Regions from separate parts of the Homo sapiens genome. Here regions 2, 3, 4 and 5 are each linked to region 1. Evidence: fine-mapped expression QTL. A gene starts in region 1. Each other region holds a variant in brackets. All regions are shown on one strand. Distances are from middle to middle.

The links.
Region 2: its variant is fine-mapped to the expression of HK1 in whole blood (INTERVAL, PIP 0.97).
Region 3: its variant is fine-mapped to the expression of HK1 in whole blood (TOPMed, PIP 0.98).
Region 4: its variant is fine-mapped to the expression of HK1 in whole blood (TOPMed, PIP above 0.99).
Region 5: its variant is fine-mapped to the expression of HK1 in whole blood (INTERVAL, PIP above 0.99). The same link has a PIP of 0.9 or more in blood mononuclear cells.

The regions. Positions count from the first base shown.
Region 1 is chr10:69,316,286-69,321,285 of GRCh38, reverse strand. It overlaps HK1 (hexokinase 1), which reads right to left and starts at 2,439. Exons shown (of 18, transcript NM_000188.3): 1 at 2,276-2,439. The coding sequence starts at 2,338. RefSeq lists enhancers at 1-270, 1,856-1,905, 3,196-3,425 and a silencer at 2,206-2,885.
Region 2 is chr10:69,237,306-69,243,663 of GRCh38, reverse strand. HKDC1 (hexokinase domain containing 1) reads right to left here. Exons shown (of 18, transcript NM_025130.4): 5 at 4,527-4,622; 6 at 2,913-3,012; 7 at 299-482. Among named protein-coding and RNA genes, the nearest start is that of HKDC1, 20 kb to the right of the region's middle. The variant G/C (reference allele first, on the strand shown) is at 2,310.
Region 3 is chr10:69,337,217-69,342,216 of GRCh38, reverse strand. The region is part of intron 1 of HK1 (hexokinase 1); the gene reads right to left. Among named protein-coding and RNA genes, the nearest start is that of HK1, 21 kb to the right of the region's middle. RefSeq lists enhancers at 2,389-3,074, 3,763-4,448, 4,449-5,000. The variant T/C (reference allele first, on the strand shown) is at 2,864.
Region 4 is chr10:69,350,400-69,356,689 of GRCh38, reverse strand. The region is part of intron 2 of HK1 (hexokinase 1); the gene reads right to left. Among named protein-coding and RNA genes, the nearest start is that of HK1, 35 kb to the right of the region's middle. The variant G/A (reference allele first, on the strand shown) is at 2,135.
Region 5 is chr10:69,382,494-69,387,493 of GRCh38, reverse strand. HK1 (hexokinase 1) reads right to left here. Exons shown (of 18, transcript NM_000188.3): 10 at 4,703-5,000; 11 at 3,013-3,161; 12 at 2,579-2,698; 13 at 1,076-1,171. Among named protein-coding and RNA genes, the nearest start is that of TACR2, 32 kb to the left of the region's middle. The variant C/T (reference allele first, on the strand shown) is at 2,926.

The DNA of each region.
Region 1 (5,000 bases):
GTACCCACTATGTCACTGTCCTTAGAAGGCCCAGGCTGGAGTGCGGTGGCGCAATCATAGCCAGGACCACACCCACAGATGGCTGTGCCACACAGTCCACTATGCAAAATGAGTGGACCCCCTGGCAGGAATCCACGTACTCCCCTATAGAAAGCAGCATAGGAAGTCCGTGGTGAAATGCAAGCAAACATCTTGTTTTTAAGAATCTCCTTGACAAATAATATCTGGTGGAAACCTTGGCCTTAAGACCTTCCTCCAGCAAGGTTCTCGGGGAAGAGAAGGGAAGAACATCAGAATCCCAAACTCGGAGTGAGGAGGGATGGAAGGGTCAACTGAATCACACACTCAGGTACCTACGGGGGCCTAGGAGATAGACTGTGCATCCATAGATGTGAATTGAGCCACCCACAGGAGTGGAGAGCTCTGGGCCCACCCTAGACACTGTATGTCTGAGAAAACATGTCCCACTGAATGGAGTCCAAACCTCAGCCCAGCTCAGCTGCTGGAGGCCACCGGCAGCCAACAGCCAGCAGTCTGTTGTGGGTGGTGGTGGGTGTGGACACTGGAGGTTTACAAGGTCACCCAGGCACCCCCCAGCCCAGCAGCCCACTGTCTTGAGCTATAAAGGACACCACGTGCAGGAGGACAGTGAACTCTTGGCTTCAGGAGGCCTGTTCTGGGCACTTCTTGCCATGCCGGGAGAACTGTCTCCCTGGTCCAATGGGAAGAACATCAGTGATGCACAACACCACTAGAGAAAACTCATGAAATGCACACACCCGCACGCACAGCTCCCAGGTCAGTGGCCAGAGGGAAGCTCCAGGGTGCTCCATAGGAGCAAGTGTTTCGAGTGCCACGGTTTGACAACCCCAGAGTGCTTAAAGCCATAAAGAGCAATGGCAGATGGCATTCCCAAGCCTATCTCCTACCTACCTCACTCCCGGTCCCCACCCACCATGGGATCCAAGATCACGGCAGGGTCCCCAGCGGCTTTGTCTCTCAGTACCCACTCCCTCCTGGAAGCTGACCTCCAGGAGGACCCTGGTGAAGTTCCTGGGTGGAGGCACTGGGAGACCTGGATCCCCCTGACTGGCTCTGCCTCTAACTCACTGGGTGACCTTGATAAGGTCGCTGCCCTCAGTAGGCCTGTTTCCTATGGTGCCAGATGAGGGAGTCATCTTAGATGCACAGGAAGAGGATGGAACACCCTATGGCTTGCCGGGCAGAAAATCAAGGCCTGTCACTCCTGCCTTTCACCTGTAGAACTCCACCTGTCTGAACGCCAAAGTCAAGATGACTTTGCCAGTCCATCCCAGCTAACCCCAGCAATAACGTCACCACGTTCAGGGTGGGTGGGCCTGGAGCCTGTACCAGACCTGGCACTGATAAAACGGGCGTCTTTCCCTACAGCTTAGGCTGTTTCTTTAAAATATGGTAGCACAGCTGGCAGAAGAGACAAATACACCTTTAAGACCTGCCAGCGGACAGTATTTTACACTAAGATGTCAAAGGCAACAACACCTCAGGACAGGAGGATGCATGCGTCCAAGTGCTAGAACAAGCATGCCACAGGCGTCCACCCAACTCAAATGACCAGTCGCTTATTTGAGCTCCTGTGCTGGCTAGAAATTACAGCTTAAGAGGAATAAAAAATTCCATTCAGACGTGCCGCTCCAGACACGAGGCCTATGAGCAAAGTTTCCGGTGGCCTCGCCGCCCCTCCCCGTTCCGGGAAGCCGGGCGGGTCACCTCGTCCTCAGATTAACGAGCAGCTCAAACAACTGGGAGAGCCCGGCGACAGCTTCTCCGGGGCACCCGACACCCTCCGCCAGGAACCCCAAATATGGGAGGCCTGGCCTCCAGCCAGCACCCCCGCCTGCTGCTCGATCACCTCCCCAGCATCTCCATGATCACACCTCCTCCCACGGCGCTCGGACCCTCCCGAACAGGCCCTGCGGAAGGGCCCACCGGCCACCTCCCCGCACAGCCCGGGGGCCTATCTGACATCCAGGGCCCGTTTCAAGGACACTGCAGCAGGCAGCCCGGTCTCGGGGGTCTTCCGCCCGATTGCCCCCCTCCCAAAAACGCACACACACAGAGACACTGACAATGCCGGTAGAATCGAAGGCGAAGGCTTTCCTTGCGCCCTGCAGTCCAACTCGATGCTGGCCCGGAGAAGGCCGGGCGCCGGAGGATGGAGGCAGCGGAGGCGGCGAGCGGATGCCGGAACGCAAGGCTGCGGCCAGGACCAGCGGCGGCGCGGGCGGGGGCTCACCTTTTTGACCTGGTCATCCTTCAGCTCCGTGAAGTAATAGGCCAGGAGCTGCGCGGCGATCATGCTGGCGGTCGGGGTCGCGGGGCGGCAGGCGTGGGGACGGTCGGTCCTCCGCAGCCCTGGCGAGCCGTGGTCCTCCGGCGGCTGCTCGGCGGCTCCTCCTCCTCCTCCTCCCCCGGCTCCTCCCCCTCGGCCCGGGGCGCGGCGACAGCTCGCGCGCTCCCGGTCTCCGCGCTCCCGTCCCCTGGAGGGTGACAGCCGCCAGCCGACCCACCTCCTCCACGCCCATTGGTTGCGGCGCGCCTCTGCAACGCCCGGCGGTGGCGTCCCGGCCGGGGAGCGGGGACGCGGCGGCCGCTCCCTCCTGCGCCGGAAAGGGGGCGGGCGACGCAGCGAAATCCCCCCCGACCCCGCATCATCCTGCACGTCCCCCACGTAGGGAGCCGATGCGGGCCTTCACGCGTGGCGGCGCCGTGCCCGGGTGGGCCGTGCCAGGCGGGGAGGTGCGAGGCGCAGGCAGGAGGCACCGCCCGGCTCCGCCGGGACGAGAAGCCCCTAGGGCTAGTCTAGGGACTGGCAGCCCCGGGGGCACGAAGGCGGTCCCATTCCTCGGAAATGAGGGCTCGCCCCTAGGAGTCCGGTGGACGCCGAGGTGCCGGAGGGGACTTGCAGAAGTGGGCGTGGAAAGCGGGCGGAAGCGGGAGCCGGGGACGCTACGCAGTCCTCGCACCCGGGTCCCGCGCCTTCCTCACCCAGGCCGAACGCACCGGCCTACCTGGGTCTTCAGCGGCAGTGCATCACCTCTCCCCGGCGTGCCCCGCCTAATCTCCAGCTGGCAGATTTGTATTGCTGAACCCAAAGCGACACCCCAGAGCACCCGCCCCCGAGTCACCAGCTCCGGTGGCTCTCCCTCAGGGCGCACTCCCTCTGGGCGGGACTTGGGCCACAGGTCGTGGCCTGTCCCCATCCTCTGGGCCTCCTCTTGCTCTTGGGCATCCAGGCCCACTGGGACTTGGGGCACGGTTCAGCGCCCCTTCCCAGGTGCCGTGTTTTCTACTTTCCCAGAGGAAGTTACGTAGGATGGGAGGACTCCCTAGAGGTGCTACCAGGACAGCCACTTTAGGATTCTTAGATTAATTATTTCTGTGTTCCGGAAGCCTCCAGGAGCTTTAGTGCCTTACAAAATGACATGTAATGAGCTCAAATATACAAACAAGTTGTTGCTATTCTGGTTAGACAGGTAAGGAAATTGAAGCTCAGTGAGGCCTCAGTCTTGCTGGACTTTATACAGCCAGGAAGTTGTAGATCTAGGATCACAGCTTGGATCTGTGAGTCTTTGAAGCAGGTGCTCACCTCTAGGGTTTGCTGTGGTCCCAGTTGTATAGAGCCCCTCTGCCTAAATAGGTCACTTTCCTGCAACCAAGTCTGCACCATATGGTGCCCTGAGATCCAACCCCCAACCTCTACCCTAGCTCTTGACTTTAGGAGTCCCTAGCCCTTGACCAGGCCTAGCAAAGGTACAGTCAAATCAGAGGGAGGGATGACGTAGGTTCAGGGGCCTGACAGCCACCATCACCCACAGAAAAGGAGGAGCTTAGATGCAGTCCTGAGGCCCCAGCTTCCTGTCCAGGTCACAGTCCCCACCCCCTGCCTTAGGGCCTATGCAGAGGGGCATCTTGAATCACCTCTGAGACTGTGTCTTCATCCATAAGATGAAGACACTAATGCCCACCTCACCTCCCCTTGATTGTTGTGTAATACTGTACGCAAAATACGTGCACATAATACACACTTAAGGAATGGCAGGTATCATAGAACTGACTGAAAAGTTAATGCGGTTAAAGCTTCAGGGACTCTCACTTTCATTCCTACCCTTCTAGGCCCTGGGAGGGCCTAGCAGTGTGATATTTGTATATTTATATTTGAATTATTTTCCATAGAGAGTGCCAATTTATTTAATTTTCAAGCCCAACAAAACCTGGATTTGCCCTGGATCATAATTATAAACCAGGAAGAGAGAGATTTTCTGGTACACATCAAACATTTGGAACTACCTACATGGCCGTTAAGCAAAATGGAGTGAATGAGAACAAGATGGTTGTTCTCAACTGCCATTTCATTTGAGTTCTGCAGATCTGCCAAGCTCACAGGGCTGGAAACTCCTTGAGGATGGAGGACTATGTTTTGCTAATTGCTCTGTCTCCTACACAAGCGCAGGGCCTGGCACTTGGCAGGCTGAATAAGCCTAATGCATAATCAAAAACATGGCCCTTAACCCAGCCACCAGCCGGTGCCATCACCCATGCCCAACCCGTTGTTACAACTCCTATCTGAGCTGGAGCCAGGGAGAAGCTGACGCTTGGAAGAGCCAGGTTACCCTGAAATGTCCTGTTTGCAGGCAGGAAAGCTGCCTCTGCTTTGTCTTCCCTGGCCTTTGAGAGGGAAACTGCTTCTCAAGGTGACTCATTCCTCCCCACTCCATGAATGCAACCAGGCCCCAAGGCCTGTCAATATTTCCTGAGAAATGTCTCTAGGCCTGACCTATTGCCACCTCCCAACTCCCAGTCCATCTCCCTGTGCCAGAAATATTACAAGAGTCTTCTAACTGTCCTCCTCGGCTCCTGGCCTCATGCCATCCAAGTCATTCTGAGCACCAGGTCACATTAATCCTGCTAAAATGCAGCATAATCATGTCATGACCCTTCCCTAAATCCCTTCATGGCCC
Region 2 (6,358 bases), 78 kb after region 1:
TTAGCCAGGAATGGTGGCCCATGCCCGTAGTCCCAACTCCTCTGGAGACTGAGGTGGGAGGATTGCTTGAGCCTGGAAGGTGGAGGTTGCAGCGAGCCAAGATCGTGCCACCGCACTTCAGCCTGGGCTAGAGAGTGAGACTCCATCTCAAAAAAAAAAAAAAAGGAAAAAGAAAAAAAGAAAGAAAGTTGTGATGGATAGCTAGTCACAACTGGAAAGCCTCCCAGGTAGCCAGGGGACCTGAGTGATTAGGCACTGCCTGGTGCCGATGCCCAGATAACACCAGAAGGGAACTCACAGTTGCTTTCCTGGGTTGAGAGAGCCGAGGTCCAGCTCCCTGTCGAACTCAGTGCGAATGTCCTCCAGGGCCCCGTCGTCCCCGAAGGCCCCCCACTCTGTGTTGATGCACATCCTGCCCTCGTCGCCCTCCACCAGGTCAATGTTGCTCATGTCCTCCATGTAACACGCATTGGTGCCAGTTCCTGAACCAGGGATCAGAGAGAATATGCAGAGAGAGGACTCCCAGCTGGGCACAGACAGAGAACTCTTGACTGCTGGGGAGTCCTCCTCAATGTACCACAAAGTGCTTTTCATTCCCTGGGGGCTGGCTCTCGCTGAGGGAAGCAGCTTGGGCAAGCCCCAAGCACATGGGGAAAACAGCTGACATGTCAAGTCTGCACTTCTCAGGGTGCTCAGGGTTTGCTGTTCTGAATGGAGTCAATTGTGAAGAAGTCCGCTGATGAATATGGATGAAAGCTGACGAAGCGCTCTTACAAGAGGACAAATGAAGATAATCTTGTAAATATTTTTTTCAAAAAATCACCAACCCAGGGTAATTTTGAAAATTCTTTCCTTAAGCTACTTAGCTTCCTCTCTATTTGATACTAAAAATATTCTTTACTTATGGCCTGCCACAAATTGTTTCTAGCATAAGCTGCATCCTTATCTTAGACTGTGATTAGCTACCACCTAAGAAAGCAACATTCCGTTATGCAAACACAAAATCGCTCCAAGGAAATGCCTCAAACACTTGAGCACTGGGGAATGACTGCAAGTGGGCACCATCTTTTTGGACTCTTTTGGGAGGACAGAAATGTTCTAAAATCGGATTGTGGTGATGGTTACAAAACTATACGTTTACTACAAATCATTGAATCGTATACCTAAAATCGGAGGACTTTTATGCCTCAATAAAGCTGTTTGAATTTTCGGGTTTTTTTTTTTTTTTTTTTTTCTTCAGTATCTTCCCTTGGCTGATACTCTGGTATGAGTATTTTAAATGCCAACATGGAAAATGAGAAATGTAGAAAAGCAGAATGTAATATTTGGAAAAAGCTTTTCTCAGAAATGCACGGACACTGTTTAGGCGTGGCCCCCCCAATCTGTGGTTACCAGACGCAGCCACAGTGACAGGCGGGTGCCATGACTGGCAAGGGCCTGAACCATTCTGAGGCTCCTGGAAACAGAAGGGTGGAGGGAGCCCCTCAGGTTTAAAAACCTGCCCTTTGGGAAAGCCAGGCTGAGGAGGGTCTTGAGGGACATTAAGAAAAAGCAATTCAGAAGAACTTTCCCCAGGAGTGGTAAAGGAATGGGAAAAGGAGAAGGGGATATTCAAGAACAACCTATAAGTCAGAGCCATTCAGCTTTACTGTACCCCAAACTGCCTTCCCACACATTCCTCCAGCTGACCCCCTCGCTCTGGTGTGGAGACCACCCACTGGAAACCCCCACTGCACCACGACCTCTCTGGTCCACAGCTGCAGTGCACCTTGCCTGACAGTCCAGTGGTCTCTTGGATGGTCACCCTGCTTCCACTCTTGTCCCCAGTAATCTATTATCCACACAGCAGCCAAAATGGGCTTTTAAAAAATGCACATCCGGCCGGGCGTGGTGGCTCATGGCTGTAATCCCAGCACTTTGGGAGACCAAGGCGGGTGAATCACTTGAGGTCAGGAGCTTGAGAGCAGCCTGGCAAACACTGTGAAACCCCATCTGTACTAAAAATACAAAAAATTGGCCAGCCGTGGTGGTGGGCACCTGTAATCCCAGCTACTCAGGAGGCTGAGGCAGGAGAATTGCTTGAGCCTGGGAGGCAGAGGTTGCAGTAAGCCAAGACTGTGCCACTGCACTCCAGCCTGGACGACAGAGCAAGACTCCGTCTCAAATAAAAAAATAAAATAAAATGCGCATCCATTTATCCATCCCCCACCCAGAGTCCCCCAGTGCCTTCCAGTCTCCCTCAGGGGATAAGCCGGTGACCTTACAGTGACTGTGTGCACATCCTGTGCAATCTGCCCAGTCTGTCCTCT[G/C]CCTCTCACTTGAATGGCCTCCGACTCTCAGCCTTCACTCACCTCATCCGGACACCACTCGGCTATAGGGTTCCCCCAGTGCCCCCTCCCTGGACCCCTTCCCATCTCCAAGCCTGTAGGTGTCCTCTTTCCTTTGGCAGGGACTCCCTACCCTCGGGCCTCCACCTTGCTCCCTGGTTTGCATCACTGAGGTCCCGGCTCAAATGCCACCCCTCAGAGAGGCTTCCCTGACGCCTCATCCCACTCACAGTCACATCACTCTCTTTGTTTTTTGTTTTTTGTTTTTTTATCACGCTAACCACCACCTGAAATTATCTTAATAGCCTAGGCCTTCTGGGCCTCTCACCCACCTCCCCACTGAAAGTTCCAGGAGCACAGGAACTCCCCACTCCAAACCCAGTGCCAAGCCCAGGGGCCGGCACACAATGGGTGCTCAGTAAACACTTGTCGAATGGATGAATGAATGAATTTTTCATGTCCCTATGTTGCTTCTCCTAAATAGTGCAGTGCCCTTCCCGCCGAATTCACTCAGAGCTCGCTGAAATGAAACTCCCAAACAGTCCCTTCTCCCCTACCCTCAAAAAACCAGTCCAATTGAGTTACCGATGATGACACCAACTTCGCAGTAGGGGTCGTCATAGGCACAGGTCATCATGGTCCCCACGGTGTCATTGACCAGGGCCAGGATGTCCACGTCCATGTCCTGCCGAACACAAGGCCAGAGGGAATCAGCGGGTGGGAAGGAGGTGTTTCCCTCCCTCCTTCCCCACAGAGGCAGCAGGTAGTGAAGGTGGCTGCTGAGACATCCCTAGATCCTGCCTGCTGGGCCTGTCTGAAGGAGCAAGGCCTCATCAAGGTTCAGGGTCTAGGGGAGAGAAAGAGCCGACAGGAGCTGAAGAGGGGAGCCCATCCTCTTGCTTTGTGGGTGAAGGCCTCTGCAATGGAAATATGAGGGACAGGCCACCGGGACTCCAGCCCTTGTTTTTTGTTGTCGATGTTTTTTTTAATTTAAAAAATTTTATTTTTTAATCTGCAGATAGGGTCTCACTATGTTGCCCAGGCTAGAGTGTGATGGCTGTTCACAGGTACAAACATAGCACACCACAGCCTCAAACTCCTGGGCTCACGTGATCCTCCTGCCTCAGCCTCCTGAGTAGCTGAGACTACAGGCACACATCACACCCAGGTTTCAGCCTTTGTTTGTGAGATCCTGGGAAGACATTGAGGAAAGCATGTTTATCCAGTGGCATTTCCAGGAGAAAACACCAAAGTCCTCACCCACGGGGACAACTCAGCCAGCAGGCACAGACTCGGCCAAGTCTTCCCCATGTATGGCATGGTGACTTCCTGTCTGGATTTCCTGTTCTGCCAAGTCAGCTTGGGTTATTGCACCAACATCCCCCAAAGTTTGGAAGAACATTTTAAAGTAAAATGAGAGCCAGGCATGTGGCTTATGCCTATAGTCCCAGCTATGCAGGAGGCTGAGGTGGGAGGATCATTTGAGCCTAGGAATTCGAGGATGGAGTGCCAGGCACTGCCAGCCTGGGCAACACAGCAGGACCTCATCTCTAAAAAAAAAAAAAAAAAAGTAAAATGAAAACAATAAGGGAAAATGCAGGCTATAAAACAATAAGATCCCAGCTTTAAAGAAAAAAAGGCTGGAAGGCTATGCAGCAAACATGCCTCTTGCTGTCAGGGCAACAAGCAATTTGGGTTTGTGTACTTTCCAGCTCAGCAAGGAGCGAGTCTTGCTTTCGCAGTAGTTTAAATTATTGTAAAATACGTTCAACAAATAGGGATATTTAATGGACAGGGAGTGGACAGTGAAATAGAGAACCAGCCCAGAAAGAATATGGAACCAGCCCGGAAAGTATATGATCTTTTCAGCCTCAGAGAGGAGGGCGTGTGGGGCCTACACACAGCATCAGATCTAACCAAGACCTCCGGAGAGGGCTGTGGCTGCTGGGGAGGCCCAGGGATGAGCTGGCCACCTTTCAATAGGGATTGGTGCAAGCCCCGCCTACCAAGGCTCTGTGGGTTCATCCAAGTTGGCCACATCTGTACTACAGTGGGACCTTTTCTAAGATCAATTCCTTCTCTGATTCTCCCTCCATGCAGGCACCATATGTGACCCCCTCACCTCACCCCCAGCCCCACCAACCCAAGAGAAAGGAGCTAGGGCTGGGAGAGCCTCCCACACCGAGGTGAATTCCTCACCTTGTGTCTTCTCATGGCTTTGGTCAGACGGCTCACCACATCCGTGTCCTGAACTCCTCGTGCCTTAAACTTTTTTGTCCACGAAAGTAGGACACCCTGGGAGAAGATTTCAGGTCCAGTTTGAATGAAAGACGTGCTGAGATGTGCAACTGAGCCGCAGAAACTTCATGCCTACGTGCATCCCCCATGGCCTTCTCTTCTCTAAGCTGAATCACCCCAATTTTTTTAAAACATTGCTTCTGCAGCCTTTTCTAATAATTTAAAGGACTATTACTCTCATCTGAGTGGTTTGAAATATATGGTAGCAGAAGGAGTAATTATTGAAAAGTTAGAGCTCTTGGATTCATGAGACATTAGACAAGTCGTTTAACCTCTCTGAGCCTCAGTCTACTCCTCTGCAAAGTGGAAATGTCACCTCCCTACCTCTCTCAAAGGAATGCTCTAATGAAAATACCTGGTGTAGGCCGGGCGCGGTGGCTCACGCCTGTAATCCCAGCACTTTGGGAGGCCGAGGCGGGTGGATCATGAGGTCAGGAGATCGAGACCATCCTGGCTAACAAGGTGAAACCCCGTCTCTACTAAAAATACAAAAAATTAGCCGGGCGCGGTGGCGGGCGCCTGTAGTCCCAGCTACTCGGGAGGCTGAGGCAGGAGAATGGCGTGAACCCGGGAAGCGGAGCTTGCAGTGAGCCGAGATTGCGCCACTGCAGTCCGCAGTCCGGCCTGGGCGACAGAGCGAGACTCCGTCTCAAAAAAAAAAAAAAAAAAAGAAAATACCTGGTGTATTATACATGCAGAATGCATGGTTTGCCAGGTCCACAAAACAGAACTAACATGGTGTAACCTTGCAGGATTGTCTCAGGAACTTCATTTCAACTTAGAAAAATGATTCCCAACCAGGCAGAGTGGCCCGTACCTGTAGTCCCAGCTACTTGGGAGCCTGAGGCAGGTGGATCACTTGAGGCCAGGAGTTCCAGGCCTGCCTGGGCAACATAGCGAGACCTCGTCTCTTAATAAAGAGAAAGAAAGAAAAATGGTTCTCAATTTGCATTACCAATCATTGCTTACAAATGGTGTTTCCTGAGTTTCGTGTCTGAAATCGCAAATAATCATAGAATGTTTCAGACTGGAAGAGAACTTGGAAGTTAAAAGAGAATCGCCCAAGTCGTCTCAGTCAAGAGCAGCTGACCCAGGCTCACAAACTTCCTGACCGCACCTCCTCCATTTCCCTCAATTTATGGATTTAAAAACGCTGGGATTGAGAGAGGGAGGAAATTGCTCTGAATTTCACCGCGAGTGAAGGATAGAGCCCAAGCCGAATGCAGGTCTCTGACTCTGGACCAGCCCTCGGGCTTTTTTCCTGCACCACAGCGCCGCCGTGTGGCAGCTCTCCCTAACTTCTGCTCTCATAGGCTATGACAACATCCCTGTCTCCAGGGACAGAGCGGGGAGAGATGCACAGGCTGGCTTTCTTCAAAAATCCCTGTTGCAGGGAAGGTGGATGGGGGAAGTGAGGGATAAATGCTTGCGATAGAATGTTAAATTAAAAAGGCAATTACATACAACTGTACATTTTCTTTTTGTCTCAAATATTTGGTGACTAGAATCAACCATAGATTTGCTAAACTGTAGATACAGGATAACACTTGTATTTAATATAGGTATGAGTAAAAGAAAAACCCACAATTCTAGTGGTGGGAATATTTGAATATTGAGATGAGTGGTGATTTCTATTTTCTTCTTTAAACTTTTCCATTCCTTCTCTCTCTCTTTTTTTAAACCTTGAAAAAAGTATTACCATTTATTTTATTATCAGAAAACACACACACACA
Region 3 (5,000 bases), 21 kb before region 1:
TAACACTGGTGTTTTTTCCTTTGTTTGTTTGTTTGTTTGTTTGTTTGTTTGTTTTTGGGGTTGGTTTTTTTTTCATAGTCTATCTCTGTCACCCAGGCTGGAATGCAGTGGCAGAATCTTGGCTCACTGCAACCTCCACCTCCCAGGTTCAAGCAATTCTCCTGCCTCAGCCTCCTGAGTGGCTGGGATTACAGGCGTGCGCCACCACGCCCTGCTAATTTTTGTATTTTTAGTAGAGACAGGGTTTCACCATGTTGGCCAGGCTGGTCTCAAACTCCTGACCTCAAGTGATCCACCCACCTAGGCCTCCCAAAATGTCTGCCAACACTCTCTGCGCCCAAGGATGATCCTTGCCCCCACTCCTAACCACTAGCCCTACCACCTTTTTCCCTTTACAATAAAGCAGCTCAAAGAAGGGCAATCAGGAACCACCAAGAGCCAGAATAGAAATTGCCAGAAGAGGCCAGGCATGGTGGCTGACACCTGTAATTCTAGAACTTTGCAAGGCCAAGGCAGCAGGATCATTTGAGCCCAGGAGTTCGAGATTAGCCTGGGCAACAACCCTGTCTCTACAAAAAATAAAAATTAGCCCAGCATGGTGATGCACACCTGTAGTCTCAGCTACTCGGGAGGCTGAGGCAAGAGGATCACTTGGGCCCAAGAGGTTGAGGCTGCATTGAGCCATGATTGAACCACTGTACTCCAGCCTAAGTGACAGAGTGAGACTGTCTCTAAAAAAAAAAAAAATTAACAATTGGCCAGGAGCAGTGGCCCACACCTGTAATCCCAACACTTTGGGAGGCTAAGGCAGGCAGATTGCTTGGGGCCAGGAGTTCGAGAGCAGCCTGGGAAACTTGGCAAAACCTCGTCTCTAAAAAAATACAAAAATTAGCCAGGCGTGGTGATACGCCCCTGTAGTCCCAGCTACTCGGGAGACTGAGGCGGGAGGATTGCCTGAGCTGGGGAAGCAGAGGTTGCAGGGTGCTATGATCCTGCCACTGTACCCCAGCCTGGGTGACAGACTTAGATCCAGTCTCCAAAAAAAAAAGAAAGAAAGAAATATGTATATATATTTTTTAAAGGAAATAAAATTGCCAAAAACATGGCCCTGGGAGGAGAGACAAGCCATGCCCTATTCTGGCTGGTGGCATTCATCAGCAGCCCTTGCCATCATAGTGCCCTGGGTCTGCAGGGAGAGACAGCCACGTTGCAAGCATGGGAGAGAAGGCTTCCTGGAGAGGCGAAGTTGGAGAGCATGCCCAGGCACAAGCAAGGGCATGTGTGAAGTCCGAAGGGGAGGGAGGGTGGTTTTTGTGATGAACAAGCAGACGGTGTGCCTGGAAAGACTGTCCAGAGCTCAACCACACAGGGCCTGATGAGCCACATAAACAAATACAAGCGGGATCCCACAGCACAGCGAGCCTTGGGACGGCTTTACTGATTACAACCATGATGAGAGTTGTGTGTCTGCTGCGTGGAGAATGGAGGAGCAAGCGCAAGATCATACAATAAAAGCTACATTGCTAGCTGGCACAGTGGCTCATGCCTGTAATCCTGGCACTTTGGGAGGCCGAGGCAGGAGGATTGCTTAGGCCCAAAAGTTCAAGACCAGCCTGAGCAACATAGTGATATCGCACCTCTAAAATATTTTTTAATTTTAATTTTAAGGCCGGGAGCAATGGCTCATGCCTGTAACCCCAGAACTTTGAGAGGCCGAGGCGAGTGGATTACCTGAGGTCAGGAGTTCAAGACCAGCCTGGCCAACATGGTAAAACCCGGTCTCTACTAAAAATACAAAAATTAGCTGGGCATGGTGGTGCATGCCTGTAATCCCAGCTACTCAGGAGACTGAGATATGAGAATCGCGTGAACCCAGGAGGTAGAGAAGATTGCAGTCAGCCAAGATCGCGCCATCGCACTCCAGCCTGGGCAATGCAGCAAGACTCCATCTCAAAAAATTTTTTTTAATTTTAATTTTAAAAAAGGTACATTGCTACTCCAGCATTTTGGACACGCCCCAACGACCACACTCCTCACACATCATGATTATCCTTTTACCAAGCTGTCCATCTCCTATGATACTGCGTGAGTTCCCCAGGGAAAGAAAACATATTGAATAGACCTTTGGAACTCACCCAGTTGCTTGACACAAAGGAGGAATTCAAACAATGCTGGATCCTGGAATAATACTATATAATTCTCTTGTGGCTTACAGTATATCAGTATATCAAGATCCAGTATGTCATTTAACCTTCAAAACTGTCTGGGAGATGTTCTTAATCCCCATTTTACAGACACAGAAACTGATGGTCCAAGAAGCTAAGTGATTAGTTCAAAGCACACAGCTGGGGGAGTGAGGTTTTATACCTGCAAGTCTAAGGCTCCTCCATACAATCATCCCTGCCCCTTAAGAAAGACTGGTCCCCTGCTCTGCAGAAGGCAGATCCAAGTAGAGCTGTTGGGGTTTTCCCGCTGGACAGGAGAAGCTTCTAGAAAAGGCAGCTCTCCATAACTCCACAGCTATCCTGCCTTCTAAGTCAAGGTGCAGCTCAGCACACAGACATTGATCCAAAAACCCCAACGTTTCAGGACAACCAAGCTAAATCCAAATAAAGCTTAGAAGCTCAAATCAAAAAGCAGGCTGCAGACACAGAGAACGGCCTGGTCCTCAAGCTGCTATGGAGGGAGGGTTTTCCTCCTTTTGTTCAGGTTCATGAGTCGTCATGAGGTACAACCCCTCTCAGAAGAGACATGAATACTGGGGCCAAAAGGGAGGCCCAATTGAGGCAAGGCCGGAACTGAAACTGGGGCCTCCTGGATTTTACATGAATGAGGACAATGAAGGGAAGCCCTTTCTTTCCAC[T/C]GGTCCTCGGGAGATCAGAAGGGGCCACTGAACCAGCAAATACCCTAGGCCTGGGGCTGGGCTGCCAGGGGAGAAGTCAGCTCCCTGGTATCTGCCACACTGCCCAGCCAGGCAGGCACCTGGTGCAGGACTCAGCAGACATGCCCCTCTGGACTGTGGGCCTTTAAGTGGCCCGGAGGCACTGGAGAAAAGCACATGACTAGAGACACCTGCAGAAAACTTCCAGGGGCCCAGAGAACCCAGCACTTCACTGAGCAAAACGCATCTTCCTCGTTCAGACCAGCCCCTCCTGGCACTCCACTGGACCACGCCTGTCTCCCTGGGAAAGAGGCTGGGAATGGGCAGTGGGTTGAAGGAGAGAGGGAGGAAGAAAGGGCATTGGAGAAATCTCTCCTGCCCAGTTGCTCCAGATCTCTGCCAGAAACCCAGGAAGAAAGGCTGACTCTTGGTCTTTGGGGATTTGGCCAAAGTCTGGCCTTTCAACTTTTCTATTTCTGTCCTCCTCTCCACAGCATCTCCAGATCTTTACTCTCCTCCTTCCTTTTCCCCTCTTCCCTCTCTCTCTACACACACACACTCTCACATACACAATCTCTCACACACACACACTCTCACACACTCACACATACACACACAAGTACTTACACACACACACACACACACACACACACACTCACATCTCCATAATCCTGTCCCCTTCTCTTAGGTGCTGCCTCCACATCACCGCTGCTTTACTGCTCCAGCCAAACATCAGTGCCCGAAGAATCCCTCCCCACACTCCATTTGGGAGTTGGGGAGGACACCGCACAGCACCACTTCCAGCTGCTTCCACTGCAAGCCTCGGTCTGTGGACCATCTATCAGAAGACAGAGGTTCCCAGGAGTCATGACAGAAACCCAGGCCCTCAAATGCTCCCTCTCAAACCAGTGTCTGAGACGAATATGTGGGACTCTGGTCAGTCTGGTCAGGCTGGGATGGAAATGGGAAGGCGCCCAGTCCCAGACACCAGACATCAGACACCGAGCTGGGTCCCTCAGACTCTTGCCTGAGAACCCGCATCCAGCCTCCAGGGCCTCTGTCCACCGCTGCCCAGAGTGAAGAGCCCTTCCTATGAGGGTAGCCAGACCGGCTGCACAGGGCGGGCGCTCTTGCTCAAACACTTTCCAGACACTTGTCCTGGATTCTCCTTCTTGTGGACCAAGGGGGCCTTGAAGCTCTCAGCGGCTCCCAAAGTTGGACCCCCGCAGAGCAGGAGGACATGTCATCAGCAGAGAACACACAGCCTCGCCAAGCTTCCCTGGCTCAGAGCCCTCCAACCAAGGAAAGAACTCAATGGCCTAGCACTGCAATCAACTCACAAACATTTCTGTGCCCGACCCCAGCCCCACCTCCTGCTCCCAACAGAACATGCACAAAAAACAAACGCAAGATTGGACATGCCCAAGTGAACAGGCCGGTCGCAGCAGGAGGCACCAGTAACCACTGGTAACCATCCCAGCCATTTTCACCCCACCCCGTGGAAGGGTGCACAGCCATGGAAAATTTCACTCCCTCTCTCATCCACCCTCCCGTGAGGATCGAGAATGCTGCAGAACAGCAGGCGTGACTGAAGCTGCTGACGCAGGCCTTTAAAATGAACTTTCCAAGCAAGGCGCTCCACTTACAAAAGGAAATTGTGGCGTGCACCCTGAAGGGTTAAGAAAGATGTTAGCTTAGGGGAGGACAGAGATTTCAACATCAGAATTCACTTCCCTTTGCTAAGGACACTGACTCAGAGAGAACGGGTCCTGGGTGCTTATTAACATCACAATTAGCAATGGCTCACATGTGCACTGGCCCTTCAGATACAGGACCTTCACATACATTATCCCATTTGAACTGTGTAGAAAGAAGTGAAATGAGCTTGTGGATGCCAAGTGCCACGCAGGAAGCAGGTGCTTTAATGCTAGTTCCCTTTCTCCTGTCACTGCAGCCCAGTGAAGTAGGCAGGAAAGACATCATTATCTCCATTATCTAGGAGAGGAAACAGACCCATGATTCAAGCTAAGTTGGGGAGTTTAGAAATGGCAGCTGGGTCTAGATTCCAGGGCTCGTAACCTCCCATTTGGGGCTTCACCTTAAGCATTTCCATTTTCCT
Region 4 (6,290 bases), 35 kb before region 1:
GCTGGTCTCGAACTCCTGACCTTGTGATCCGCCTGCGTCGGCCTCCCAAAGTGTTGGGATCACAGGCGTGAGCCACCGCACCCGGCCTCATTTGTCTTTTATGTGTTGAGTTGTAAAAGTTCTTTTTATGTTCTAGATACAAATCCTTTATCAGACATATGACTGGCAAATATTTTCTCCCATTCAGTGGATTGTCTTTTCTTTTTTTTATGGTATCCTTTGATGCAGTAACATTTTATGTTTGTTGTTGTTGTGTTTGAGACAGGGTCTTGCTCTGTTGCCCAGGCTGGAGTACAATGGTGCAATCATGGCTCACTGCACCCTTGACCTCCTGGACTCAAGAAATCCTCCAGCCTCAGCCTCCCAAGTAGCTGGAACTACAGGCATACGACCACACCTGGCTAATTTTTAATTTTTTTTAGAGACAAGGTCTCACTATGTTGCCCAGGCTGTCTCAAATGCCTTCGCTCAAGTGATCCTCTTGCTTGGCCTCCCAAAGTGCTGGGATTACAGGCATGAGCCACCAAGCATGGCCAAGTTTTAAATTTTGATGAAGTCCAGTTTTACGTTTTTTCTTTTATTGTTTGTGCTTTTGGAGTTGTAGCTAAGACTCTATTGCCAAATCCAAGGTCACAAAGATTCAAACCTGTATTTCGTTCTAAGAGTTTTATTAGTTTTAGCTCCCACATTTAGGTATTTGATCCATTTCAAGTTAATTTTATATATGGTATGAGGTGTAGGTCAAACTTCATTCTTTTGCATGTGGATATCCAGTGTCCCAGCACCATTTGCTGAAAAGACTATTCTTTCCCTCATTGAATAGTCCTAGCATTCTTGTCAAAAGTCAATTGACCGTAATGTATGCATTTATTTTTTTTTTCGAGACAAAGTCTCACTCTGTTACCCAGGCTGGAATGCTACCCAGGCTGGAATGCAGTGGCATGATCTCGGCTCACTGCAACCTCCACCTCCCGGGTTCAGGCAATTCTCATGCCTCAGCCTCCCAAGTAGCTAGGATTACAGGCGTGTGCCACCACAACTGGCTAATTTTTTTGTATTTTTAGTAGAGACGGGGTTTCACCATGTTGGCCACGCTGGTCTCAAACTCCTGACCTCAGGTGATCCACCAGCCTCGGCCTCCCAAAGTGCTAGGATTACAGGCATGAGCCACCACACTCAGCCTGTATGCATTTATTTCTGAACTCTCTATTCTGTTCCATTAGTCTGCATGTCTACCTTCATGCCAGTACCACATGTCTTGATTACTGTTGCTTTGCTGAAAATTTTGAAATTGGCAGTGAAATTCCTTCAGCTTTGTTCTTCTTTTTCATGATTGCTTTGGTTATTCTGGGTCCCTTGAGCTTTTGATTTTCAACACAAAATAAGGTTTGCTTTCTGTTTTTAACAATAAAGCTGACTTATCTTTGTATTTGATTCTACCAAGCTATAAGCCCTGACACACTGCTATATTTCTGGAACTTACAATGGTGTTTGGAATGTAGGTAAAAACTGAGCAAATACTTGTGGAATTAATGAAGGTATAAAGAAATAAACAACAAACCAAGGAATTCTCACATTGAATGTCACTGTTCCTATCTTTTTTTTTTTTTTTTTTTTTTTTGAGAGGGAGTCTTCCTCCATTGCCCAGGCTGGAGTGCAATGGCGTGATCTTGGCTCATTGCAACCTCTGCCTCCCAGGTTCAAGTGATTCTCCTGCCTCAGCCTCCCGAGTACCTAGGATTACAGGTGTCCACCACCATGCTTGGCTAATTTTTGTATTTTGTAGTAGAGATGGGTTTTCACCATGTTGGTCAGGCTGGTCTCAAACTCCTGACCACAGGTGATCCACCTGCCTTGGCCTCCCAAAGTGCTAGGATTACAGGCATGAGCCACTGCGCCCAGCCTGTTCCTATCTTCGTTCTCAAGTTCCTTGAGGGAAAGACCACAACTTGGGATTCTCTGTCCTTGGCACCCAGGACAGCTCAGCAAATGCTCATTAGCTGCCTGGTCACAGGGACTGGTGGTCCATTCATTCATTCAAGGCACCTGATATGGTTAGGCTTTGTGTCCCCACCCAAATCTCATCTTGAGTTGTAACCCCCACAATGCCCACATATCAAGAAAGAGACCAGGT[G/A]GAGGTAACTGAATCATGGAGGTGGTTCCCCCCATGCTGTTCTCGTGATAGTGAGTGGGTTCTCATGAGACCTTATGGTTTTATAAGGAGCTCTTCCCCCTTCGCTCAGCACTTCTCCTTCCTGCCGCTTTGTGAGGAAGATGCCTTTTCTCCTTCCACCATGATTGTAAGTTTCCTGAGGCCTCCCCAGCCATGCTGAACTGTGAGTCAACTAAACTTCTTTCCTTTATAAATTACCCAGTCTTAGGCAGTTCTTTTTAACAGTATGAAAACGGACTAATACAGCACCCCTGCTTGCTGTTTATTAAGCACAAAGCAGTTACGCCATCATGTGAGACACACACAGAGGAAAAACCAGAGTATGTTTTTCCTTTTCTCTACTCACCACAACACAGAACACACCTGTGACCCTGGATGCATGTGGGTTTTTCCCCACACACCAAGCAAGTAATTCTGCAGTGAATTCTCCAGTGAACACCAGCTCCATGCTCTCTAATTCAATTCAATTATTTCACTAGCTACCTGGAGATAGCATCATATCCCACAGGTCGAGGGCTCGTTCACACGAGGCTGCCCTCCCTCCAACTTCAGACACCAGTCACAAGCACAGGTTGTGGCCTGTGCTTCTGGCTGATCACTATAAATCGGGGTTCCTACAACCCCCTCCTTGGGTTGCATTAGTTTGCTACGGCAGCTCACAGACCCAGAAAAAACACTTCACTTACATTTACATATTTACTATAAAGGATATTACAATAAATACAGATGAAGAACTGGATGGAAGAGATACACAGGGAGGGGCATGGGAGAAAGGGCAGGAGTTTCCATGCCCCCTCCAGATGTGCCACCCAGGAACCTCCATGTGTTCAGCTAGACAGAAGCTACCAGAACTCAGTCATTCTAGGTTTTCTTCTTTTTGCTTTTTTTTTTTTTTTTTGGTTTTGTTTGTTTGTTCTTTGAGTCAGGGTCACACTCTGTCACCCAGGCTGGAGTGCAGTGCAGTTGCATGATCACAGCTTACTGCAGCCTCAACCTCCAGAGCCCAAGCGATCCTCCCACCTCAACCTCCCGAGTAGCTGGAACTACCGGCACGTGCCACCACATCTGGCTAACTTTTTTTTGTATTTTGTGTAGTGACAGGGTTTTACCATGTTGCCCAAGCTAGTCTCAAACTCTTAGGCTCAAGCGATCCACCCACCTGGGCCTCCCAAAATGCTGGGATTACAGGCGTGAGCCATCATACCTGGCCTGTTTTAGGTTTTTGTGGAAGCACCATTACACAGTTGCGATTGATTAAATCATCGACCATTGGTTTATTCGCTCTATTTTCAGGCTCTCTCCCTCCCTGGAGGCGGCATGGGGGTTGGGGCTGACAGCAACCCTCTGATCACATGGTTGGTTCCCCCTGGCAACCAGCCCCCCATCCTGAGGCTATCCAGGGTCCCACCAAGGAACAAAAGAGACTCTCCTATCACCCAAGAAATTCCAAGGGATTTAGGAGCTCTGAGTCAGGACCAGGATCAAAGATTCTCCTAGCACCTGTATTGCTCAAGAAATTACAAGGGTTTTAGAAGCTAAATGCTAGAGACTAGGGGCAGAGACCAACATGTATATTTCTTATTATTTCACATATTGGTTGGTTGTTTTTTTAATAACAGTTTTATTGAGATATAATAATATAGCATACAATTTTTACCCATTTTAAAGTGAAAAATTCAGTGGTTTTCAGCATATTTACAGAGTTGTGCAACCATCACCACTATCTAATTTTAGAAAATTTTCATCATCCCAAAAGAAATTCCATACCCATTAACAACCATTCACCATTTCCTCCCAACCTCCCTATCTCCCAGCAACCACTAATGTACTTTCTGCTCTACAGATGCCCCTATTCCAGACATTTCATATAAGTGGAATTGTATAATATTAGGTCCTTTGTGTCTGGCTTCTTTCACCCGGCATAAGGTTTTCAAGGCTCATCCATGCTGTAGCGTGGATCAGTACCTCATTCCTTTTTATGAACCGATTATATTCCATTATATGTATATATCACATGAAGCCACTGGTTTTAAATTATTTGTGGTCCAAAGGAAAGAGAGAGAACAAGGGAGAATGCTGGGAAGCAGGTGTCATAGATTTGGTGGAAATTCTGACCCCGACTTTGTGGCATTGTTCAAATCAATATAGAATTTTCTTTGGGCTCCCATTGGAGTCCTAACTCCAACAGTACTTTACACCACCACTAGGTTAAAAAATTGAATTCAGCCGGGCGCAGTGGCTCATGCTTGTAATCCCAGAACTTTGGGAGGCTGAGGCGGGTGGATCACTTGAGGTCAGGAGTTCGAGACCAGCCTGGCCAACATGGAGAAACCCTGTCTCTACTAAAAATACAAAAATTAGCTGGGTGTAGTGGTAGGTGCCTGTAATCCCAGCTACTCAGGAGGCTGAGGCAGGAGAATCGCTTGAACCCAGGAGGCGGAGGTTGTAGTGAGCCGAGATCATGCCACTGCACTCCAGCCTGGGCAACAGAGCAAGACTCTGTCTCAAAAAAAAAAAAAAATTGAAATAACTGAAAAAATTGAATTCAGTATGAAGTAGCTCCTCGCAGGTGAGTCACTAGAATATCAGAAACATTTTATTTGACCATCCATCAGCTAACATTCACTGAGTCTTTCTGTACCAATCACTAAGTGCTTATACGTATCCTTTTATTTTCAATCTTCACAACCCTATGAAGTCAGTACTGTCAGGATGCCCATTCTACAGATGAGCAAGTAAAGGTAAAGAGGGGTTAGATAACTTGCCCAAACGCACAACCAGTAAGTGGCAGAGTCAGCATTTGAATCCGAAGCCATAATGTATAACCATGAAAACTGCCTCCTGGACAGAACTCAGGGACAAGGATCCCCAAGGAAAGTGGGGGCCAGAGAGAGACTTCAGCACATCAGGAATGGCTACACTTCTTTTCTGGGGCTCTTCAACTTCCATGATTCCTTATAGCTTTGGGTTTTTTTGTTTTGTTTTTTTTGTTTTTGTTTTTGTTTTTGAGACGGAGTCTCACTCTTGTTGCCCAGGCTGGACGGCAATGGCGCGATCTCGGCTCACTGCAACCTCCGCCTCCGGGGTTCAAGCGATTCTCTTGCCTCAGCCTCCCCAGTAGCTGGGATTACAGCCACCCACCACCACGCCCAGCTCATTTTTTGTATTTTTAGTAGAGACGAGGTTTCACCACCTTGGCCAGGTTGGTCTCAAACTCCTGACCTCAGATGATCCGACTGCCCTGGCCTCCCAAAGTGCTGGGATTATAGGCGTGAGCCACCGTGCCTGGCCTAGCTTTGGTTTTATTTATTTATTTATTTATTTATTTATTTATTTAATTTTGAGACGGAGTCTCGCTCTGTCGCCCAGGCTGGAGTGCAGTGGCGTGATCTTGGCTCACTGCAAGCTCCACCTCCCAGGTTCACATCATTCTCCTGCCTCAGCCTCCCAAGTAGCTGGGACTACAGGAGCCCGCCACCACGCCCAGCTAATTTTTTTTTTTTTTTTTTTAGTAGAGACGGGGTTTCACTGTGTTAGCCAGGATGGTCTCGATCTCCTGACCTCGTGATCCGCCTGCCTTGGCCTCCCAAAGTGCTGGGATTACAGGCGTGAGCCACGGCGCCCGGCCAGCTTTGGTTTTATTTTGCTTCATTCTCTAATGAAGACAGTGAAAGCTCAGTCTGATAAACAACTATAAACCACTTGTGCATAGGGGGAAAAGGGGCACAAAAGCAAATACTACACTGAGATGAAATGATCGGTACTTTTTATTTTAATATTTTACTTAATTAATTTGCTGTTTTAATGTTCACCTAAACATTTATTTATTTCATGTTTTTGTTTGTTTGTTTTTTTGAGATGGAGTCTCACACTGTTGCCCGGGCTGGAGTGCAATGGCGCAATCTTGGTTCACTGCAACCTCCAACTCCCGGGTTCAAGCAATTCTCCTGCCTCAGCCTCCCGAGTAGCTGGGTCTACAGGCATGCACCACCACGCCCAACTAATTTTTGTATTTTTTAGTAGAGACGGAGTTTCACCATTTTGGCCAGGATGGTCTCGATCTCTTGACCTTGTGATCCGCCCACCTCGGCCTCCCAAAGTGCTGGTCCTATACGCT
Region 5 (5,000 bases), 66 kb before region 1:
GCAGCATGGCAAAACACCATCTTTACCAAAAACACAAAAATTAGCCAGATGTAGATGCCCACCTGTAATCCCAGCTACTAGGGAGGCTGAAGCGGGAGGATCGCTTGAGCCTGGGAGGCAGAGGTTGCAGTGAGCCAAGATTGCTCCACTGCACTCCAGCCTGGGTGACAGAGTAAGACCCTGTCTCAAAAAAGGAAACTTTAAAATTCTAAAAATTTTTTTTAAAAAAGTTTAATTTGGATCTGTGTCTGTGTTGTGGTTTGGGGGAAGGTTTAAAGAAGTGGGGCTTTGCTCTGGATTGGATATTGTCAGGAACCAGGGGCAATTCTATGGTTACAGACTGGTCTTATTCTTGTCTAAATCCATCATGGTCCCGGACGGAGTGGCTGTGTCTGATGTTTCTGCTCTGCAATTGTTTGTGGACTCTGTGAAATTGTTTGTGTTCCACAGGAGAACACCAAGGCCTAACTGAGAGTGCCAGGCTGTGCCCACCTGTCAGGGGCTGCTTCTCTCTTTTTCAATTTGTATGAGAGTCATGATTTGCCTTTCTAAAAAAAAAATAATAATAATCTTTTAACAACACAAACCTATGAGCCCTTATTTTATTGCGGGCAGTGGAGTCAGGAAATAGGGAGCTTTTCTTGGCCAGGTCACATACTTCTGTATTGTTAGAATTCTTTTTTATGTATTATTTATTTATTTATTTATTTATTTAGAGATGGAGTCTTGCTCTGTCGCCCAGGCTGTAGTGCAGTGGCGTGATCTCAGCTCACTGCAACCTCCTCCTGGGTTGAAGCGATTCTTCTGCCTCAGTCTCCCGAGTAGCTGGGACTACAGGTGCGCACCACCACGCCTGGCTAATTTGTGTAACTTTAGTAGAGACAGGGTTTCACCATATTGCCCGGGCTGGTCTAGAACTCCTGACCTCATGATCCACCCGCCTCGGCCTCCCAAAGTGCTGGGATTACAGGCGTGAGCCACCACGCCTGGCCTGAATTCTTTACAACAGGCAAATACACTTTTTAGAAGCCCCTAAAACAGTAAAGATTTTAAAAAACATTCTTTTAATAGTTACCTCTCTCCTTTTTATCGCATCCCTTAGTAAGGTGACTACATCGTGGCCCACGCAGTCTGTTGCCTTAAAACCCTTTGTCCACGTGATCAAGATTCCCTACAACATAAAAAGCACCAGGAGAGTCCTGTGTAATTAACCTGGAAGGGGAGAACACAAAATTCCAACCCTCCCTCCTGAGTCAACAACTGCTGAGGGCTTACAACATCGGAGACGGAGTTCAAACATCTGAGGACAAACCAATAAAATATGAATAGACCCTCCTCACCATCCTCATAGGGGTTTGAAATAATCCCACTTCACAGATGGAGCATGAGGCACATTAGGTAAATAGCAATGTCTAAGTTCACTCAGCAGACGGCAAAGACGGCACTCAATACTGGACAAGAGCCCAGATCACCCGATTCCAAGCCTGGTGCTGCCACTGGCATAACCAGCTGTACAGAAGAGTCTACTGACACTATAACTGAAGGATCCTAAGAGTTTAGTAATACTGTGTCTACCTAAAGTACATTTTAGCTTTCACTGGATTGAAGTTAAAACACTTCCTGGGGAAGAAAGTACACTGGGTGTGTGTTGACTATGATGAATCCAAGGTGAAGGTATAAGTGAAATGCTTTAAAAACAAACAAACAGATCTAACTCCTGAGCTCTAAAAGGGTTTCAGAAGAAAAAAGTCCCAAGTCAGCGATGTAACTGGATTAACTGGTTTACAGAGGTAGGTGACCCTACCTAACTCTCCTAGGGCTGCTCATTAAGCCTTAAACCCTGGCCTAAGACCCACCTCCAGAACTCCTGCCTGGTCACGTCTCCACCTGTGACACCCAGAGCTACCTACAGCTCTTCCAGCGTGACAGGCTGGGTCTTGCCTCCGTGACTCTGCACCATTGGTTCCTTCTGCCCAGAATCCACTCCCCAGCCCTGACAGCATGGAGCTGGAGCTGCTGGTGTTAGGGACTCGGCTCCCCCACTAGACTGTGGCCTTCCAAAGGACAGGAGCTGTAACCTTCAGCTCTGAGCCCAGCCAATCAGTAGTCAGCAGGTGCTCAAGCTCTGATCCTGGACCCTGATTCATCTCATATATTGAACAAACATTTATTATCTCCTCTGATTGGACACTGTGCTAGGGCGTGCAGGGATACAGGTCCTTGCTCACGGAGTCTACCACTAGCAGAAACAAAAGACACTAAGAACTAACTGTGTAAGAAGTGTTATAAGCAAGGCAACAATCAAATGAACAGGGGGCACAGAAGAGGATGAGGTTCTTTTTTTGCTTGGAGGACCAGAAGGTTTCCCAGAAAAGGTGACGCTTTCAAAGAGAAAAGAAGAGAGAAGAGTCTCAGTATGCCCTGCAGGCTGTGAAATAAAGCCTGGCTCAACCCACTGTGACTGTGACTGTCATCTAGGAATGACACTGAGGCTGGAGAAGGCCTCAAGGGCCAGCCCACCCAGGCCACAGGGGACTCAGTGCTGCCCGATCACTGAGCCCTAAGAACAGAGACTCACCGCGTCCAGACTCGTCTGCTGGCAGGGAAATGAGAACGTGAAGCCCAGAGGCATCCTGGGGCCTTTGATCCCCATGTAGTCCAAGAAGTCAGAGATGCAGGAGACAATGTGATCAAACAGCTGCAGGGGAAAAGAAAGGATCGCCCGTGCTCTCTGTGGTTTTAATTTTATCAGTGCACATGGACCAAAGTGTGTATACACACACACACGTAGGAAAACACACCCCACACACATGCAGAGTGAGCCTCCTTTTCCAGAATCTTCTCAGCCACCAGAGTGTCACAAGCCAGGCATGGCAAAAAGCATCTGGTGCTTCTGGGCCACAAGGACACAAATCCATGTGGGCA[C/T]CCCGTGGCGGATTTTGGTCATCACGTGACTGCCGGTGCCACTGGCCGTGTGTGCAGTGCACATGCACTATGGTTTTGTAATCTCACCTCTTCCCCAGTGCCCTGCATGATTTCAATAGGAATGGCGTAGATCTTGTTGTGCATTTCCACCGTTCTCTTTTTCCCACTACGGATTTTCACCAGCAGCACACGGAAATTGGTTCCTCCAAGATCCAGGGCCAAGAAGTCACCATTCTCTGTTGCAGTCAAAAGCGTAAAGAATGTCAAAAACAGCTAAGTGCCTCTTGGCAGCCAGTAACCCCAAGACTCCAGACTTTCAAGGGGAGAACCCCATAGCAAACATAGAGGAGAAGCTGCAACTCCTCCCTTTAGGACACAGCACAGACTCAGAGGAAGAGTGGGCACCACATCTCTGACCACCACAGACTTGGAGCCACACTGGGAGGAGAGCATGTGAGTAAACCACCTGTCACAATACACAGACTTCACCAGGGCTGCAACAATGAAAATCTCCTACAAAAAATAATAATTTATGTCAAGGTGTGGGGTATTTGCAAAAACAGCTGCATCATTCCCTTCCCTGCATGTGCAAAATCCTTCTTTGCAACATGACTGCAGTTCCTCCCACTGAAACATGGAGTCAATTTCTCCTCCCCTGGGATCTAGCCCAGCCCTAGGATTGTTCAGGCCAACAGAGTGTGGCAGAGGCAAAGCTGAACCTATCCCCAGCCTGGGCTTCCAGGAGGCTTTGAAGTCTTCCCCTCTCCCTCGCAGCCCTTGCTGCCACCACTTGAACAGCCAGGTGGCCCACTGAAGGATGAGACACAGGGCCAGGGGCCCCTGCACCCCAGCTGACAGCCAACTGCTGGACATGTGGGGAAGGGCGTCTGAGATCTGCCTCCCAGCTGACTCAACAGCTGACTGCAGATGCAGGAATGAGGCCGGCAGAGGTCAGCCAATCCTGGCCCTGATGAGCAGAACTGTCCAACTGACCCACAGATGCATGAACAATAATAAAGCGTGGTTGTTTTAAGCCACTAAGTGTGAGGGTGGCTTATAATGTGGTATTAGGTAACTTACACATAGGACACATTCCTGTCACAAACATTCGTTACTCCAAGGACCCACCTGAAAAGCTCTTCAGATTCCCCATAATGATCAGCTCCAGTGAAAACTACCAAGGTTAGCATAAAGGGTTGGATTTTGTTCTACAATTTGCCTGAATGCGAAACTCCCCAGGCCCTGAATGCCTCATGCATACTCTATCAAGATTTAAGAAGGGTACACTGAGTGTTTATCCTTCTGCTGGCTTTCCTTGGCTTTGGGAAAACCTAATCAGTGCTGTGGGATTTGCCCAGCTTTTAAGAACACTTCTTTTTTATTCATTTAATTTTTTTTGAGACAGGGTCTTGCTATGTTGCCCAGACTGGTCTTGAACTCCTGGGCTCAAGCAGTCCTCCCACCTCAGCCTCTTAAGTAGCTGGATGACAGGCGTGTGTCACCTTGCCCAGCTAAGAGCACTGTTCTGAGCAGGGCTGTGGTTTTAGAGATAGCACTTGCCTGGGAGGTCTGACCAGGAAAATTAAACTGCCCTGAGTCACACACATGACAAATCAGTTAATAAAAATGGAAAACAGAGATGTGAGGGAGTTTCTAGCTCTGGCAAAATCGTGCATCACCAGTGTGAAGGCATCCACTGGCGAATCCAACCTCCCCCACTGCGGCTCAGTTCCTGGCAGGAGCAGGACAGGCATGTCAGCCCCCAGCAGGCCCTCACCGGTCCCGTCGGGAGTTCTCCGGACGAAGGAGGGCAGCATCTTAACCACGGCATTGTTGTGCGTCTGCTTCCTCAGCCCCAGCTCCATCTCGGCCCGCATCCTCTTCTTCACCTCCAGCAGCATGTCCTTGGTGAGGTGGAAATGAGCCAGGGTCTCCTCTATCTGCCGGTGCTGCTCGGCCAAGCGGTAGGCCACCGCCGTCACCATGGCAGCCCCCTTGCCGCTGCCACTCTCCGAGAGGAGGAAGCGCACATCGGAGTCTGGCACCAAGCGCCTTAGAGTCTTGTGGAAACGCCG